2 linked regions of the Homo sapiens genome follow. The protein of the gene in region 2 interacts with the protein of the main gene of each other region in a pairwise test. Each region holds a gene or a part of one and is shown on either strand. Other genes may lie near its edges.

What was found. Proteins that work in one complex are often made in the same cells at the same time.
Region 1: the proteins of CELF1 (region 2) and SLC25A14 interact in a two-hybrid assay, tested with the Homo sapiens proteins (one large-scale study listed by IntAct).

Annotation. Positions count from the first base shown.
Region 1 is NC_000023.11:130,367,419-130,370,918, reverse strand, and holds part of SLC25A14 (brain mitochondrial carrier protein 1 isoform 1 precursor), read right to left. Parts: intron 1-3,500. UniProt on the Homo sapiens protein: Transports inorganic anions (sulfate, sulfite, thiosulfate and phosphate) and, to a lesser extent, a variety of dicarboxylates (e.g. malonate, malate and citramalate) and, even more so, aspartate and glutamate and tricarboxylates.
Region 2 is NC_000011.10:47,476,633-47,480,132, forward strand, and holds part of CELF1 (CUGBP Elav-like family member 1), read right to left. Parts: intron 2,321-3,500; coding exon 2,245-2,320; intron 794-2,244; coding exon 665-793; intron 328-664; coding exon 214-327; intron 1-213. UniProt on the Homo sapiens protein: RNA-binding protein implicated in the regulation of several post-transcriptional events. Involved in pre-mRNA alternative splicing, mRNA translation and stability.

The sequences.
Region 1 (3,500 bases), on a different chromosome or scaffold from region 2:
GCTGCTTTGCAATCCCTGGCCCACAGAAACTGCAAAATAACAAATGGTTTAAGGCAATGAGTTTTGGAGTAATTTGTTACACAGCAATAGGTAACCTATACAGCAGTTTCTACCCTCATGGAGTGCATATTCTAGTGGGGCTGACAAATACACAAATTGATATATATTATATCCAAAAATAAGTGCCACAAAGAGAACTAAAGCAGGGTAAGAAAATAGAAAGTTGGGCAAGTCATTATTCTTCTCTGAGTCTGTTTCATCATTATAAATTCTATATAATGCCATAGCCTACCTCATGTGAATGCTTTGAGGATTACATGAAGAAAAATGTGAAGTGTTTTGAGTTTTGGTTTCCTACTTTATACAACAGGGGTCTTATATACATGGTTATGAGAATTAAATGATAAATTATGCATAAACGTTGTAAACTGGTGGCACGTGCTGAATTTAGCCAGCAGAAATGGTTCGTATATAATGGACAAATATCTATTACATAACTACAGTGTGTTAGGCATTGTGTTAGACATTGAAAAATGTTATTTTGCCTTTCCAATAGTGAAGTGAAACCCACCACAATTCTAAAAAAAGGATATATTTGGATAAGACAATAATATGAGAAGCCAGAGTTGTAAATATTCTTTTTCCCATCCTGTACATTAAGTATACTAGAGATAATTATCCTTACTAACTACTTTTGGGAACAAACAGTAAAATAATAAGCACAATATTTATGAAGATATAGTGGTAATATGTTTCCCCCAATGGATCTTCAGCAAATAGTAAAGGTCTGAGACCAAAACTGATGTTGGAAAATTGTGAAAATCACCCCAAATAAAGCCCAGATGTGAATAACCTAGAACCTAGACTGTTAAATGACAAGAGACCTCTGAAAGACCATCCAATCTCATAATCTCTTACCTGGACTACCACAATGGACTTTTAATTGGTCTAAAATCTCTACCTAGAAGCTAGAACAATCTTTTAAAATTATAAATGAGAGCATAACATTTCCTGCTTAAAGCTCTCAAATGGCTTCCTGGTGGATTTCATTCTAATTACAAAGTCTCTGCAAAGACCTATAGGATCCCACATGATTTAGCTGCTGCCTTTCTCTCCAGTTTCATTTCCTACTAGTTTCTCCCTTCATTCACCACACACTCAGCCACACTAGCTTTCTTTCTAACCCTTGAACATGTCCAGCTTATTTCCAACTCAGGCCTTCAGTAACCTATTCCCTCTTTATGAAATGGTTTTCTCCCAGCTCTCATGGCCAGCTCATCATCATTCAGATCTCAGCTCAAATGTCACCTCCTCAGAGGCTTTTCTTGACCATCCTTGCTGAAGTAGTTCCCCACTACTGAGTCACTATTGCAATATGCTGTTATTTTCTGCATAGCATCTATTTCTATCTAAAATTATACTGTGCATTGTGTGTTTATTGTCTCCCTCAACTAGAATGAAATCTCCAAGAGATTAGAAACTAGCTTTGTTTGTTCACCATTGTGTCACCACCACCTAACACAGTGTCTGGTGCAAGAAATTTTCCCGTAAGTATTTGTTGAAGAGGTGAACACAAAAACAGTAAGGGTCTCTAACACTCTTGTGAGCCATCTGGATCTTTTTTTTTTTAATTAAGAAACATGGTCTTGCTCTGTCGCCTAGACTGGAGTGCAGTGGCAAGACTACATAGCTCACTGCAGCCTCAAACTCTGGCTCAAGCGATCCTCCCGAGTAGCTAAGACTACAGGATGCAAGCCACAGCACCCGGCTTGAATCTTTATAAATTTCCAAAAACAGTGACCAATTTCTTCACAACGTGAGAACTGGGAGGCATCTTTTGGCATAAGGCAGTTGTGTGAAAACAAAGAACTTCTATAGATAAGCATAGACAAAATAATAAAGTCTGATGCTATTACATAAATGGCAAAATAGAACAAAGTCATTTTAAAGAATGACTGCTATTAAAATTTTTTAGTAGCAAGTGAGTAAATGAGTGAGCAAATGTAAGTACTTAAAGGTTACTACCAACATAAAAACATGTTTCTGCAGATTCAGAACAGCATAGTGGCTGTAAGTACAAACTTTGGAATCAGACAGATTGTGGATTAAGTCTCAGACCTGCCTCTTATTAGCTGTGTAATCTTGTGTAAGTTATTACTTAGCTACTCTGAACCTAAGTTTCCTCCTTTATAAAATGGGAAAGATAATATCTACTCCACAAGGTCGCTGTGAGAGTTAAAGGATATACTCTATGTACAGTGCCTGCGATAGAATAAGCATTCAATAAACATTAGCTATTACTATATTATTGTATAGTAAATCTTACAGTAAATCTTTTAGCCAATCTTCTTGAAACAGTGCTTTACATTTGTCTATTTATCATTACTTCCTGTGTTTATCTCCTTCTATTAGAATCTAAGTGTCATAAACACAGGGACATTTTGGTTTACCAGTACATCCTCAACAACCTAGAACAGTGCTTAGCACATAAGACAAACATTTCTTTCTTTTGTGTGTGTGTGGGGGGGCCTCTTCAAGAGTCAGCTTGATTTTTTCTTTTTTATTACTTGAATGAATAATCAAACATATTCCTCAATGCACAGCAATTGGCTTTTGCAAACACCAATTCACCAAACCTTCTAAAAAATATTAAATCCAACAGACTCTTTGCAGTCCTTATCATATTAGATCGCTATTGCATGTGACATTAAGTAACCACTCATTCCTTCTTGAAACTCATTAACTTCTTTGGCTCCCATGACACTACTCTCTAAGTTTCCTCGTCTTTGGTGTCTTTCCTAGGTTCCTCATCTGCCAAGACCTTAAAAATTGGTATTCCGGTCAGGGCACGGTGGCTCACGCCTGTAATCCCAATACTTTGGGAGGCCAAGGCGGGTGGATCACGAGGTTAGGAGTTCGAGACCAGCCTGACCAACATGGTGCAACCCTGTCTCTACTAAAAACAAAAATAAGCCAGGCGTAGTGGCGGGCACCTGTAATCCCAGCTACTCAGGAGGCTGAGGCAGGAGAATTGCTTGAACACGGGAGGCAGAGATTGCAGTGAGCAGAGATCACGCCATTGCACTCCAGCCTGGGCATAAATAAATAAATAAAAATTGGTATTCTGCAGTGTTTTTTCCTTGGCCCAGTGCTCTTCCCTCTACACCAGTAATTGTCAAATGCAGAAATACCAATGGGGGCTTTTGCCAAACTATACTTTCCAGGGTCTGAGAATTGCTGCCCCAGGCAATCATTATTACGGGAAAGAATTTTATAGTACTCCAGTATGCTGGGAAGGCAAAAAGGTTGTGAACTCCTCTACCTACTCTCCTTGGTCAACTCTCTCCACAGTTATATACCACCTGTGTGCTAATGACTCCATGGGCTTTTATCTATATCCATGAACCCTCTCTTGAGTCAGGGCTAGAATATCCATATGTATCCACTGGATTTTCCTCATGCACATCAAACTGAGTATCCAAAACTAGGATGTCTCCCCC
Region 2 (3,500 bases):
AGCCAGAATGGTCTCGATCTCCTGACCTCGTGATTCGCCCACCTTGACCTCCCAAAGTGCTGGGATTAGAGGTGTGAGCCACCACACCTGGCCCTCATGATTATTTTTAACTTCACTGGGCCACTGCAATCATTCCAGTGGTGCCCCTACCAGGGTTAAGATGTGCTACCTGCACAAAGAATAGTCTGATGACAGCCAGGTGCTGCCCCTTACCTGCCAAAGAGCCAACATTGAGGCCAGCCGTTGCTCCAGCTAATGTCTGCAGGGCTCCAAGTGAGGCTATGGGGTTGACAGAATTACTGCTGCTAGAGCTAGGTGAGGACCCTGCTATTAGAAAGCAAGGAGTTAAAATTCAACCCATCACTGGCATTCTCGCCAAATACAAGAAAAAGTGTCACTATCCAAGTATGCTATTTGTAAAGAGGTTTTCAGTTACTAATTCTAACAACTGTCCTTGCAGGACAGAGACAAATAATGGCCACAGCACATTGAAAATCAGGAAGATTTCTCTTAAGTACAAAAGATGACATTTGAAAATTTGTTGCTCATAATCTGACCTCTCTGGAAACAGGTGTTAACTATTTTCCCTCTCTGGACTCTGCCTTTAAACACAAAGCATCTGTCCAAGGCACATAATGGCACACTGGGTCATCCTCATGCTTACCTGAACTAGTGAGCACGCTGAGGGGACTGCTGGATGTAGTGAGAGCATTGGTACCACTTGGTGTGTTCTGAGCTGCACTAGCTGCAGCAGCTAGTGCAGCCAAATTCTGTAACTGCATTGCATTCAACCCTACAACATCCAAAGCAAGAGATTAGCCAGCAGATAAGGGTGCTTCATATCCATTCCAGCAATGACAAGCACACACTGGCAGAGGGCTGGTCCCTGACAAAGAGGAACTGTTCTAGATAAGCCTTACAAACAACATTACAGGGCTCCAAAAATGATTCATGTATCACTCATTAAGAAACTTGAAATCATTTCCTCAGAGAAGAGATGGCTAATCCAATAGCATACCATGCCAAGTGTACATTAATAAAGGTGTGGGCAATTAGGAAACCAAGAAAAACTGCCTACCATAGGGCCAGGAGCACAGGAGAACAATGCCAAAACCTACAGCACAGAATGGGACTGCATCCAGGCCCCTCACTCACACTTTACAGGGGATTCGCTCTCTGTAATAGAGGGGAACACGCAGAAAACATGGCAGATGCAGAAGGCCCAGGAGCAAACAAGGGAGAACACAGCAGAGCAGCAATGACACAAAGAATAAAGACACTGTCACTTGAATAGCAGATTCATCACCAGAAAGAGGAGAGAGGAAAAATCACTGAGTGAAAGACTTCCAAGTAGAGCCCAGACAACACAGTTGAAAGGGGAAGAAGGAATCTAAACTGTGCTGTCGCTGCTGCAAACCATTTACTAGACAATGGAAAGATGGATGGGGTGAGGGGTGGGGGGAGTGGAAAGAGTAAACGAGAATTAAAATACAATACAGATTACAATCTAGCAACTTTCCAAAAATATAGCCAACTATAATTTCCTGAGACAAAGTGAATGACTATCAAAAATTTTCAAAGAGCAAAATGCAGTTCACTGAAAACTATGCCTTTCTCAAATGCACATTTGGCCTAGCCTAAATCCAATGCAGAGGGTGTAGGCACAGGCAGCTTTGAAGCTGTCCCATGCCCTACCCCCAACCGACTCCTGATGGGCCCTAGCTCAGGTTTGTTGTGGCACTCCATTTAAGTTTTCTGTGTACGATAATAGCAACAACAAAATAGGAATTCACCTAAGAAACAAGAAGATACACAGGTAAACCAAATGCCTGGGTTCTAGAAGCTTCAAGGTAGGGCATTTGCATGGAAGCCATCTTTGGCTTTTCTGCAGTCACTGGAAAAGTCACTTTATAATGGAAATAAAGAGTTCTTGCAATTTTTTCCCCTTATCAGAGAACAGCCTCAGTCTATAGGAGCTAAACAGCCCTTTTCCATATTCTTCTTCAACAGTGACCTAAAAGGTTAGGAGGCACCAGATAACGTCAGAGCAATGTGGCATCAACTAGCCATAGAGCCACTGTATAGAGACAAGAAAATTGAGTCCTGGGATGTTTATCCTAGGTCAGGTTTACATAATAAGCAAAAAAATGTTTTCACAGAAACGATGCCAAACTCCCAAGACTGTTGTTAGCTGGGTCTGCTGGCCTGGGTGCTGCTGCTCCTCTGCAGCAGTGAAACACTTACCTCCCATTGGGTGGAGGCTGCTCAGGGTGTTGAGGTTCCCAGAGGAGGCAGTCTGCTGAAGGAGCTGCAAATAAAGCTAGACATTACACCAAAAAACAGAACAAGAGTGAGAGTGAGGGCTGGTTCTGCATCTGGGATAACTCTACAGCACAGCAAAGCGAGAGTGCAGAGGCCCCCAGAGAGAAGAAAGTCAAAGACAAGAACCCAAGCCAACACAACAGAAACATGAGGCTTATGACAGCACAGGACAAAAAAAAAACACAGCTAAAGCACTGGCCCAGAAGATAGTATGTTCACTGAATACTGAGCCAAGCTCAAGTCCCTGGGCAGCAGAATTCAGCACAGCAAAGGACAGAACTACAGCAGGATAATAAGCTAAACTTGAGGAGCTACGCAGTCAACTGTGATTATTGTCTGCGAATGAATGAATGCCATTTCCAGCTACCCTCTCCCAAGTTCTCCTTAGTTAGGTCCACACATCTCACTCTGCAGATTGTTTCCATCTGGATACTCAATTTCTACTTCACACAACTATTTTAAATATCAAATCTAAACATTTCATAGTATTTCTTGGAGTTACCCTTTATTGGTCACAATGGACCACATGACTAATAATCACTCCAGCTACACATCTATCCAACCTTATTTACTTCCTCCCCTCCAAACTGGTCTTCCCTGTTGCAGATGACCAAATGACTGATGGATTAGTCTATACCAGGTTCAGAGTACGTTCTCCTTCAATGATGGTCCCATGACAAATAAAGTAAGAGGGCCTGTCCCTGAGTTTGTGGCATTAGTTTACTTTGTATATTGGCAAACCACAACCTTCATCTAACCAGCTTGCTGAAAACTTTTGCTCCAACTAAACCCAATTAGTATTGTTTATGGAAAATTGGTATTCTTGTACAGGATCCTTTTATTCAACCTGTTTCCCATTCCTATAAACATCTGACCTGGTTTCTCTGTCGCCGCAAATCCTTCCAGGCTAGAGACCATGGATAAGTTTCAGGAGGTCTACAAACCTCCAGGAACAGAATGGGGGAAAAAATGCACCTATACACCCTTTCCCCCCGCTTCTCAAAGGATAAAAAGATAAAAACCAACTCCTCCAGGACAGTAGAGCCTGGCTAACTCAAGTCCACATAGTCCAGAAAGAACCTCATAATTAATGATGATGTACTATCACACAGTCCACTAGCACCCACGTCTACACTTTTTTTTTTTTTTTTTTGAGACGGAGTCTCGCTCTGTCGCCA